2 separate regions of the Homo sapiens genome follow, and region 2 is linked to region 1. The links come from fine-mapping of genetic effects on gene expression. A gene starts in region 1. The other region holds a variant in brackets. All regions are shown on one strand. Distances are between the middles of the regions.

Region 1 (5,376 bases):
ACTACAGGTGTGCGCCACCACGCCCGGCTAATTGTTGTATTTTTAGGAGAGACGGGGTTTCACTGTATTGGTCAGGCTGGTCTCGAAATCCTGACCTCGTGATCTGCCCGCCTCGAACTCCCAAAAAGTGCTGGGATTACAGGCCTCCCAAAAAGTGCTGGGATTACAGGCCTCCCAAAAAGTGCTGGGATTACATTGCACCTGACCCACATACATTATTTTCTTTCTTCTTTTTTTTTTTGAGATGGAGTCTCGCTCTGTTGCCCAGGCTGGAATACAGTGGTGCAGTCTTGGCTCACTGCAACCTGTGCCTTCTGGGTTCAAGTGATTCTCCTGCCTCAGCCTCCTCAGTAGCTGAGATTACAGGTGCGCACCACCACGCCTGGCTAATTTTTTTGTATTTTTAGTAGAGACGGGGTTTCACTATGTTGGTCAGGCTGGTCTCGATCTCCTGACCTGTTGATCCACCCGGCTTGGCCTCCCAAAGTGCTGGGGTTACAGGTGTGAGCCACCGTGCCCGGCCCCATATGCATGATTTTCTAAATCTCAGTCTGTATCTGTAAAATGAGGAACTGCTTGTCTCATAGGTAAGAACATCACTTGTTAGCTATGTGATAATAGGCAAATTATCTGGACTTTTGGAGTCCATTTACTCATCTTTAAATTTTATTTATTTAGGGACAGAGTCTTGTTGTGTTACCCAGGCTGGATTCATACTCTTGGGCTCAAGTGATCATCCCTCCTCAGCCTCCTGAGTAGCTGGGACTACAGGCACACTTAGTCTAAAATTTAGTTATTGAGAAGATTAAATGTGATAATGTTAACAGCTGTTAAATACAATTTATAGGAGCCCATTGTTTTGCACTGAGCTTCAGCACAGTAGACCAAACCAAAACAGAGTTACTCAAGGTGAATTTCTACCCAACCACGCCTAAACGAAATTGTTTATCTGACCTTCTGAGAAATCATCAAATCCCCAAACTGGTCAGTTTTACCCCACATAAGGAAGTCCATTCTGCTTAAACCTTTACAAGAAAAGTAATTTTGAAATGACTAATCTGCTTTTTGTTCTCTGTTTCTACTTTTTAAAAAAAAGTTTAGACAGGGTCTCCCTCTCTGTCACTCATACTGGAGTGCACTGGCACGATCGTATCTCACTGCAACCTCCAACTGCTGGGCTCAGGTGATCCTCCCACCTCAGTTTCCTGAGTAGCTAGAACTACAGGTGTGCAGCCACAGCCACTATGCTTGGCTAATTTTTTTTTCTTTCTCTCTTTTAAATTAAAGTTAGTTTTATTCAAACTATTTTATTCAGAGCCCAGCTAATTTTTGTATTTTTAATAGGGTCGGGATTTTGCTATGTTGGCCAGGCTGGTCTTGAACTCCTGGCCTCAAGTGATCTGCCCCCTCCTCAGACTCCCAAAGGGCTGGAATTACAGGTGTGAGCCACCACGCCCGGCTGCCCAACTAATTTTTTAAAAAATATTTTTATTCTTTAGAGACAGGGGTCTCGCTATATTCCCCAGGCTGGTCTGGAACTCCTGGCCTCCAAGGATCCTTCCACCTCTGCCTCCCAAAGTGTTGGGATTACACGCATGAAACACTGCTTATGGCCTGTTTCCGCCTCTGTCTCCTGGGTAATGGGGACCACAGGTGCGCACCGCCACGCCAGGCTAAAGAAATAAAGTGATGTACTGTATGAAGAAGTGCCGTAAAGTGATATTAAATGTAAGGTATTGTCATTATTAACGTTATTATTATTATTCCTAATATGAGATAGACTAAAGGCCATAAATCAATTGGTATTAACGCTAGAATAAGAACCATAAATTGGCCGGGCGCGGTGGCTCACGTCTGTAATCCCAGCACTTTGGGAGGCCGAGGTGGGCAGATCACGAGGTCAGGAGATCAAGACCATCCTGGCTAACACGGTGAAACCGTGTCTCTACTAAAAATACAGAAAATTAGCCGGGCGTGGTGGCGGGCGCCTGTGGTCCCAGCTACTCGGGAGGCTGAGGCAGGAGAATGGCGTGAACCCGGGAGGCGGAGCTTGCAGTCAGCCCAGATCGCGCCACTGCACTCTAGCCTGGGCGACAGAGCGACTCCGCCTCAAAAAAAAAAAAAAAGAACCATAAATCAAACGAGTCTATAAAGGAGTTCCACAGGTATTCCAATGTTTGGCTACATTATTATCAGTGTATATTATTATTGTTACTGTATTTTTAGTGTACTAAGTGAAAAACCTGGACTTGGAGCAACTGCAAGTCCCATTATTTTGAATGCCCTCACAGTGGGGTTGGGGCGGAGGTGGGGGAGGAAATAAAAAAAACAAAACCAAAACAAACAAACAAACAAAAACCAAAAAACAAACCACGAGACCCGGATGTAGGCAAAAACTACATTTCCCAGAATACCTCACCCCCTCTCCACTATATATACAGTCCATCCGGGTTCTTTGAGATGCTGTTTGGCGACTCGTCGCCATTCCCGGAGCAGGTCGGCCTCGGCCCAGGGGCGAGTATCCGTTGCTGTGTCGGAGACACTAGTCCCCGACACCGAGACAGCCAGCCCTCTCCCCTGCCTCGCGGCGGGAGAGCGTGTCCGGCCGGCCGGCCGGCGGGGCTCGCGCAACCTCCCTCGCCTCCCCTTCCCCCGCAGCCTCCGCCCCGCCAGGCCCGGCCCGGACTCCCGAGCCCCGGCCTCCTCGTCCTCGGTCGCCGCTGCCGCCGGGCTTAACAGCCCCGTCCGCCGCTTCTCTTCCTAGTTTGAGAAGCCAAGGAAGGAAACAGGGAAAAATGTCGCCATGAAGGCCGAGAACCGCTGCCGCCGCCGACCCCCGCCGGCCCTGAACGCCATGAGCCTGGGTCCCCGCCGCGCCCGCTCCGCTCCGACTGCCGTCGCCGCCGAGGCCCCCGTTGATGCCGCTGAGCTCCCCCAACGCCGCCGCCACCGCCTCCGACATGGACAAGAACAGCGGCTCCAACAGCTCCTCCGCCTCTTCGGGCAGCAGCAAAGGGCAACAGCCGCCCCGCTCCGCCTCGGCGGGGCCAGCCGGCGAGTCTAAACCCAAGAGCGGTAAGGACGGGCCTGCGGCAGTGGGCGGGGGCGACTGCCCCTGCTGCTGGGGAGAGTCGTTGCTCTCATCGGCTGGGTTACTCGGGGACAGGCTCCACTTTCTTTTATAGCTCCTACCTGCCCTTTTCCATGGCTCTCATTTGCAGTTACATTAATGAGCGCTGTGCTGCGTGGTTTACGTGGATCATTTACATTAATACTCAAAACTGCTCGATTAAGCAGGTGCTGTTCTTATCGCCATTTTGCATATGATGAGAAAGGGTAAGGTCACCCAGCTAGTATTTGGCTCACAGCAGGCCTTAAGACTTGGTTTGTGTGACTCATCAGTCCACGCTCCTAAAACCACTAAGTTGTTCTACCCTTTAATGTTGAATTAACATTGGATAGTGTTCAAGTTTAGATGGGTGGGTGAGGGCCCAAGGACCTTTCAAACTCAGATCTCTTATTTAATAACCTGGTCCCAGATCCATTCCTCTGTCGAAGAGGAAGTCATCCTTCAGTGGCTATTCATTGTGGGGTTAAGAGCGCAGACTATGAATTCAGTCTTTTTGGGTCCCAGTTTGCCAGACCTTGAGTGAGTGCCCCGAGTTTACTTACTTGTAAAGGTAGGTGGAGGTAATATAATTAAATAAACTTAAAAAACTAATTAAAAACAAAACAAATGAACTAAGGTCTTAGGATATCTGGCGTCTATTTTGCGCCAAATACACATAATGTCTATTGTTGTGTGTTGGACTATAGGATTGTCCTTTAACAGGGAAGGTTTTATTTCTGTAATCAAGTCTGTCAATATTATGACCATGTTGATAATAGCTACCTTTAATTGAGGGCTTACCATGTGCCAAGTACTAGGTGAAGTTTTTACCTCTGTTTTCACTGTGCCAGTCACTGACTTGTCTACCAGGGTGAAATTGTTCATATTTAAAGAAGGAATAAACTGAGCAGGTAGGATGTTAGGAGTTGGCAGAGGCTAGAGTCCCGGTGTTCTTCATTTTATTTCGAAGTTTGTACTAATCTCTGCTCTCTTTTGTATTTCAGTCACATTAGCAGTAATAGGAAGGTGTTTTCAGCGACAGTGGGGATGTTGTGGCAGAGAGGGAAATATTTGAAGTCCCTAAATGTGGAGGTCCAGTTTAAAACTTGTCAAGATTAAAAAAACTGTTTAGAGTGAGACCGGGCGCGGTGGCTCATGCCTGTAATCCGAACACTTTGGGAGGCTGAGGTGGGAGGATAGCTTGAGCCCAGGAGTTTCACACCAGCTTGGGCAAGATAGTAAGACCCTCGTCTCCATAAGAAAAAAAAAAAATTAGCCGAGTGTGGTGGCACACACCTGTAACCCTACCTACTTGGAAGGGTAAGGTGGGAGGATCGCTTAAGCTCAAGGAAGTTGAGGCTGCGGTGAGCTATATCACGATACTGCATACCATCCAGCCTGGGTAACAGAGACCCCCATCTCTAAACAGTAAAAAGAAAACTAAGGCTGACTTAAAACAAACAAAAAAAACAGAAAATTGTAAGGTCTGCTAACTCGCTCAGAGTTCACCTGCTGGATATGGCAAACTTGTTTACCTGGTGTGAGACCATTGGAGTATGGGTTCTCGGGCCGTGTCAGGAAATGGCATGTATGCAGACTGATTTTGCAGTTCTGCACATGCGTAGCTTTGCCATAGATCCCTCAAAAGATAGAAGGTAACCAGTCCTTTTGGTCAGTGTTGGAACTGGTTTAGAGTGGTCTGTTCAAAGCAATTGATAAGTAAGTTTATTTTTGTACTCTATTCCCAGATGTATGTTAAGGATTTGGTTCTCCAACTGTGAATTCTCAACTAATTTTTCTGGGGCTCCTCTTTAAGCCACTAACATACATTCATTAGTCAGTTGCAATAAATGCCTTAAGTTTATTTCTTAGCAGTAGGTGAAAGCTTGTGACAACTTAAAATAAAACAAACAAACAGGTATTTAAGGAATTTTACTGCTATGTCCTTCACTTTGAATATGTTGGTTAGTGGAATTAACTCTGATTACCCAACAAGATGATACAGAATTCTATAGTAGTTTGACCAAAGCAAGTATTTGTCATTGTTAACATTTCAAATGGGCTGGGTGGCTATAATCCCAGCACTTTGGGAGGCTGAGGCAGGCCGATTACTTGAGCCCAGGAGTTCGAGACCCTGTCCTACAAAAAAATAAATGAGCCGGGCGTGGTGGCACGCACCTGTAGTCCCAGCTGTGAAGAGGCTGAGGCAGGGGAGGAGGAAGAGCACTTAAACCCAGAAGTTCGAGGTTGCAGTGAGCCACGATCAC
Region 2 (5,376 bases), 56 kb before region 1:
CTTAAATTATATTTAACAATAATTAACTTTAATTGTAATAGCCAAATGTGGCTAGTGGCTACCATACAGGACAGCGTAGGAATTTATCATTCTCAAAGGTCTATAAGCTGTACTCCCCCATTCCCCCAAAAAAGGCCAAGAAACACTGAGACCAATCACTTCCCTTTACAGCCCTATGGTACTGGCACATAGTAAGTGCTTAGTAAACACCTGTTGATTTTATTAACTAGTATATAAAGAACAGTTATTCTAGCTCCAGAAAAGTGGAACTGAGGTACAAAATGGCAAATGAGCTCATCAGGTTCACCAAATTTCATTTCCTAAGCTCTAAATTCCTTACCCTCAACCCAGAACTTTTTCCAAAACATTTTCCACTGTAACAAACCTTGAAAACTTTCTTCACAGCAGAGTAAATCAGAAACACAAGCAAAGGGTAGGGGGGTGTGAAAAGATTAATAACAGTACTAAGAATGTTTTTCAATGCAACAAAAAAGGATGCATTTATTTAGTAGAATCCTAATTTTTTTAGACCCAAGTCAGTTTTATACTAAGCAGATTTTTAATGAACTGCGTCAATATAATTCAGTAATGGCACCTCCAAGGCAAATACATTCCTTAAAGGTAAAAAACAAGTATGGGAATTATCTGGAGTTTTTTTTTTTTAAGTTAAAAAAAAATAATAATAACTGAAAGCCAGGAAGCTTCTAGGCTACACATCCCCCATGCTAACACATGCCCAGTGGCTGAACTTCCTTCTGTCTGCCTGAGGCTGGCTCTCCCCCTCAGCCAGCACATGTGCAGGGCTTCTGTGAATGTCACATTGACAGACATTCCTTGCTAGGCAGCTGGGGACCAGTTTCTTTTGTAATTCCATCCTTCTCATGGGCTGCCAGTCTGTCTTGTTGTGACACACTCCTTGAAGGTGCTAGAAGGACAGCGGATGTTTGGGGGGTTTTTTTGTTTGTTTTTTGAGACAGAGTTTCGCTCTTGTCACCCAGGCTGGAGTGCAGTGGTGCGATCTCGGCTCACTGCAACCTCCGCCTCCCAGGTTCAAGCGATTTTCCTGCCTCAGCCTCCTGAGTAGCTGGGATTACAGGCATGCACCACCACACCTGGCTAATTCTGTATTTTTTAGTAGAGATGGGATTTCTCCATGTTGGTCAGGCTGGTCTCGAACTCCCAACCTCAGGTGGTCCGCCCGCCTTGGCCTCCCAAAGTGCTGGGATTACAGGCATGAGCCACCGCGCCCGGACTTTGTTTTTTGTTTTGTTTTTTTTGTTTTTTTTTTTGAGACGGAGTCTCGCTCTGTTGCCCAGGCTGGAGTGCAGTGGCACGATCTTGGCTCACTGCAACCTCTGCCTCCTAGGTTCAAGCGATTCTCCTGCCTCAACTTCCCAAGTAACTGGGATTACAGGCACCTGCCACCACACTTGGATAATTTTGTATTTTTAGTAGAGATTGGGTTTCACCATGTTGGCCAGGCTGGTCTCGAACTCCTGACCTCAAGTGATCCACCTGTCTTGGCTTCCCAAAATCCTGGGATTACAGGTGTGAGTTACCACGCCCAGCCAAGAGCAGGTTTTTTTTATCTAGTGCTATGCTTGGACCCCAGCTTTAAGAGCCCAGGGTTATGTACATGGCATCTGGGACTTTGGTGGTGGCTTCACTCCTTGTCTGCTCAACATTTGTTCATGTATTCAACCCACATTTATCGAGCCATAGAACATTGAGCCTGGCTCTGTGCTGGGCACTGGTGCTCGGGATACAACAGTAAGACTCAACCCTGCCCTCACACCATTCACAGACAACTAAAAAGGCAATTACAGTCAGGCGTGGTGGCTCATGCCTGTAATCCCAGCACTCTGGGAACTCGCTTGAGCCCAGGAGTTCCAGACCAGCCTAGGAAACCTAGTAGATCCCGTCTCTACAAAAAAAATAAATAAATAAAAATAAATAAATAAATAAAAAAAGCTGGGTGTGATGGTGTGCACCTGTAGTCCCAGCTACTCTGGAGGTAGAAGCGGGAGGATGGCTTGAGGCCAGGAGTTGGAGGCTGCTTTGAACTAGGGTCTCGCCACTGTACTCCAGCCTGGGTGACAGAGCAAGACCCCGTCTCTGAAAAATAAAGTAAAAATATATATATATTTTTTTTTCTGAGACAGAGTTTCGCTCTTGTTGCCCAGGCTGGAGTGCAATGGTGCGATGTCAGCTCACTGCAGCCTCCGCCTCCTGGGTTCAAGTGATTCTCCTGCCTCAGTAGCTGAGATTACAGGCATACGCCACCATGCCTGGCTAATTTTTTTTTGTATTTTTAGTAGGGACAGGGTTAAGCCATGTTGGCCAGGCTGGTTTCAAACTCTTAGCCTCAGGTGATCCACCCATGTCGGCCTCCCAAAGTGCTGGGATTACAGGCTTGAGCCACTGCACCCGGCCAAAAGTTTTTTTTTTTGTTGTTGTT[T/G]TTTTTTTTGAGAAGGAGTTTCACTCTTGTTGCCCAGGCTAGAGTGCAATGGCACAATCTTTGCTCACTGCAACCTCCACCCCCAGGTTCAAGTGATTCTCCTGCCTCGGCTTCCTGAGTAGCTGGGATTACAGGCATGCGCCACCACGCCCAGCTAATTTTGTATTTTTAGTAGAGACGAGGTTTCTCCATGTTGGTCAGGCTGGTCTTGAACTCCCTACCGCAGGTGATCCGCCCGCCTCGACCTCCCAAAGTGCTGGGATTACAGGCATGAGCCACCATGCCTGGCCCCAATTTTTTTTTTTTTTAAATAGAGACAGGGTCTCACTATATTACCTAGGCTGGTCTCAAACTCCTGAGCTCAAGTGATCCTCCTGCCTCAGCCTCCCAAAGTGCTAGTATTACAGACATTAAGCCACCATGCCTGGCCTAAAAAATAAAAAGGCAATTACAGGCTGGGCACAGTGGCTCATGCCTGTAATCCTAGCACTTAGGGAGGCTGAGGCGGGCAGATCACTTGAGGTCAGGAGTTCGAGACCAGCCTGGCCAACATGGTGAAACCACGTCTGTTTTCTTTTCTTTTTTATGAGATGGAGTCTCAATCTGTCACCCAGGCTGGAGTGCAATGGCACAATCTTGCTCACTGCAACCTCCACCTCCTGGGTTCAAGCAATTCTCCTGTCCCAGCCTCCCGAGTAGATGGGATTACAGGCGCCCGCCACCACGCCCAGCTAATTTTTGTATTTTTAGTAAAGACAGGGTTTTGCCATGTTGGCCAGGCTGGTCTTGAACTCCTGACCTCAGGTGATCCACCTGCCTCGGCCTCCCAAAGTGCTGGGATTACAGGCGTGAGCCACCGCACCAGGCTGTGAAACTGTCTCTATTAAAAATACAAAAATTAGCTGGGCATGGTGGCAGGTGCCTGTAATCCCAGCTACTCGGGAGGCTGAGGCAGGAGAATCGCTTGAACCCGGGAAGCAGAGGTTGCAGCGAGTCGAGAACACACCACTGCACAGCAACCTGGGTGACAGAGCAAGTCTCCGTGTAAAAAATAATAGTAATAGGCCAGGCGCGGTGGCTCACGCCTGTAATCCCAGCACTTTGGGAGGCTGAGGCGGGCAGATCATCTGAGGTCAGGAGTTCGAGACCAACATGGAGAAACCCCGTCTCTACTAAAAATACAAAAAATTAGACGGGCATGGTGGCACATGCCTGTAATCCCAGCTACTCAGGAGGCTGAGGCAGAGGAATCACTTGAACCCGGGAGGCGGAGGTTGTGGTCAGCTGAGATCACACCATCCAGCCTGGGCATCAAGAGTGAAACTCCGTCTCCAAAAAAAAAAAAAAAAAAAAATAATAATAATAATAATAATAATAAAATTTAAAAAGGCAATTATAACAAAATGAGATATGTGCTACAAGAAATTCAGGGCACTCCTGCAGCTCTTAACCCAGGCTGGAGGGGAGTGTTCAGGGAAGACTTCCTGGAGGGAGTGGCTCTTCTAAACTGAGACCTGAAGAACCAGATGGTGCTAGGCAGGTAAATGAGAGGAGAAGAAAAGCATTCCAGACAGAAAGAAAGCACTGCAAAGAAAGCTGGGAGGACAGAGGCAAGCTTGGGGCTTTCGGGAAGCTAAATAGTTCAGCACAGTTAGAGCATGGGGTGGAGGTGAGGGCTGTTCTTCCTTGCACTAGTGCCACAAGCTACTTACAGTGAGATGCCCTAATGTAAATCAGAGCCTGGCTGGGTTAGATTACACATGTCAGTCCTAAGTATTTCAGATGTTCACTGGCAATCAGTATGAGTTGCCTTTACCATACAAATGTTTATTGTATATCCCTGAATAGGATGATTGTAAAGGGGTGGCATGATCAGTCTGGGGGAAGGGGCCTTGAGGGGAGTATGGTCTCACAGTGTCCAAAGGAGAGCTGTGAATAGCAAAAGGATGCTTGTTTGGAAGACAGAAGGACAGCAGAAGGGGACAAAGCAAAAATCCAATCATCCCTCCTTGTGTGAGGAAGATGGGGCTCAGGGGGAGCGGAATTCAAAATGTGAGGATGTTTATTAAAACCTATGGTTCCCCCAAAATTAGAGGGGACCTCAATCTGCATCCAGAGGGGGCTGGTTAAGCAGGAAATGTACAGTTCTAGTTCTGAATACTATGCAAACATTAAAAATACCACATTCATATGTGTGGATATGAAAAGATCTCCAAGATACTGACATCTACAGTGTGTACTGTGCTAGATGCTAGGGACACAGCAGAGGGGACAAAGTGTCTGCCTCCCTAGAGACAACACCATCTCCACACCCTCACCTTGGCCTTCAGGATGTGCCTGAAGCAGCTTCTCCTCCACTCCTGCTACTCCTGGCAGCTTCTCTGGGATCTGCTGTCTGGAAGCCTGTGTCCCTTTCCTTCCTCCAGGTCTTTGCATGGGCTGGCTCCTCTCCCTGGACACTGTTTTGCTCCCTCTACCTCTGCCTCCCGAGTCTTTGCCTGGCCAAGGCCTCCTCAGCCTTCAGGTCCTTGACTTAGTAAGGGGCCCAGGCCTGTGTGACCCAATCTAGAACTTTCCTTTGAGTTTATACCTCTGAAAGGCCTTGTTGTCTCCCATTATGCCTTTTGTTCCACCTCAAAGCATTTTTCTTTTTTTTTTTTTTTGAGACGGAGTCTCGCTCTGTTGCCCAGGCTGGAGTCGTGGCTCCATCTTGGCTCACTGCAAGCTCCGCCTCCCGGGTTCACGTCATTCTCCTGCCTCAGCCTCCCGAGTAGCTGGGACTACAGGCGCCCGCCACCATGCCCAGCTAATTTTTTGCATTTTTAGTAGACATGGGGTTTCACCATGTTCGCCAGGATGGTCTCGATCTCCTGACCTCGTGATCTGCCCACCTTGGCCTCCCAAAGTGCTGGGATTAC

What was found. PIP is the estimated chance that this variant, and not a neighbour inherited with it, causes the effect.
Region 2: its variant is fine-mapped to the expression of RNF10 in lung (TOPMed, PIP above 0.99).

The regions. Positions count from the first base shown.
Region 1 is chr12:120,531,894-120,537,269 of GRCh38, forward strand. RNF10 (ring finger protein 10) reads left to right here and starts at 2,463. Exons shown (of 17, transcript NM_014868.5): 1 at 2,463-3,075. The coding sequence starts at 2,919. LOC128071547 reads left to right here and starts at 2,804. Exons shown (of 1, transcript NM_001414895.1): 1 at 2,804-3,064. The coding sequence starts at 2,804. The coding sequence ends at 3,064. RefSeq lists silencers at 2,361-2,514, 2,613-2,682.
Region 2 is chr12:120,475,659-120,481,034 of GRCh38, forward strand. It overlaps a transcript of DYNLL1 not described here. Among named protein-coding and RNA genes, the nearest start is that of SRSF9, 8.6 kb to the left of the region's middle. The variant T/G (reference allele first, on the strand shown) is at 2,459.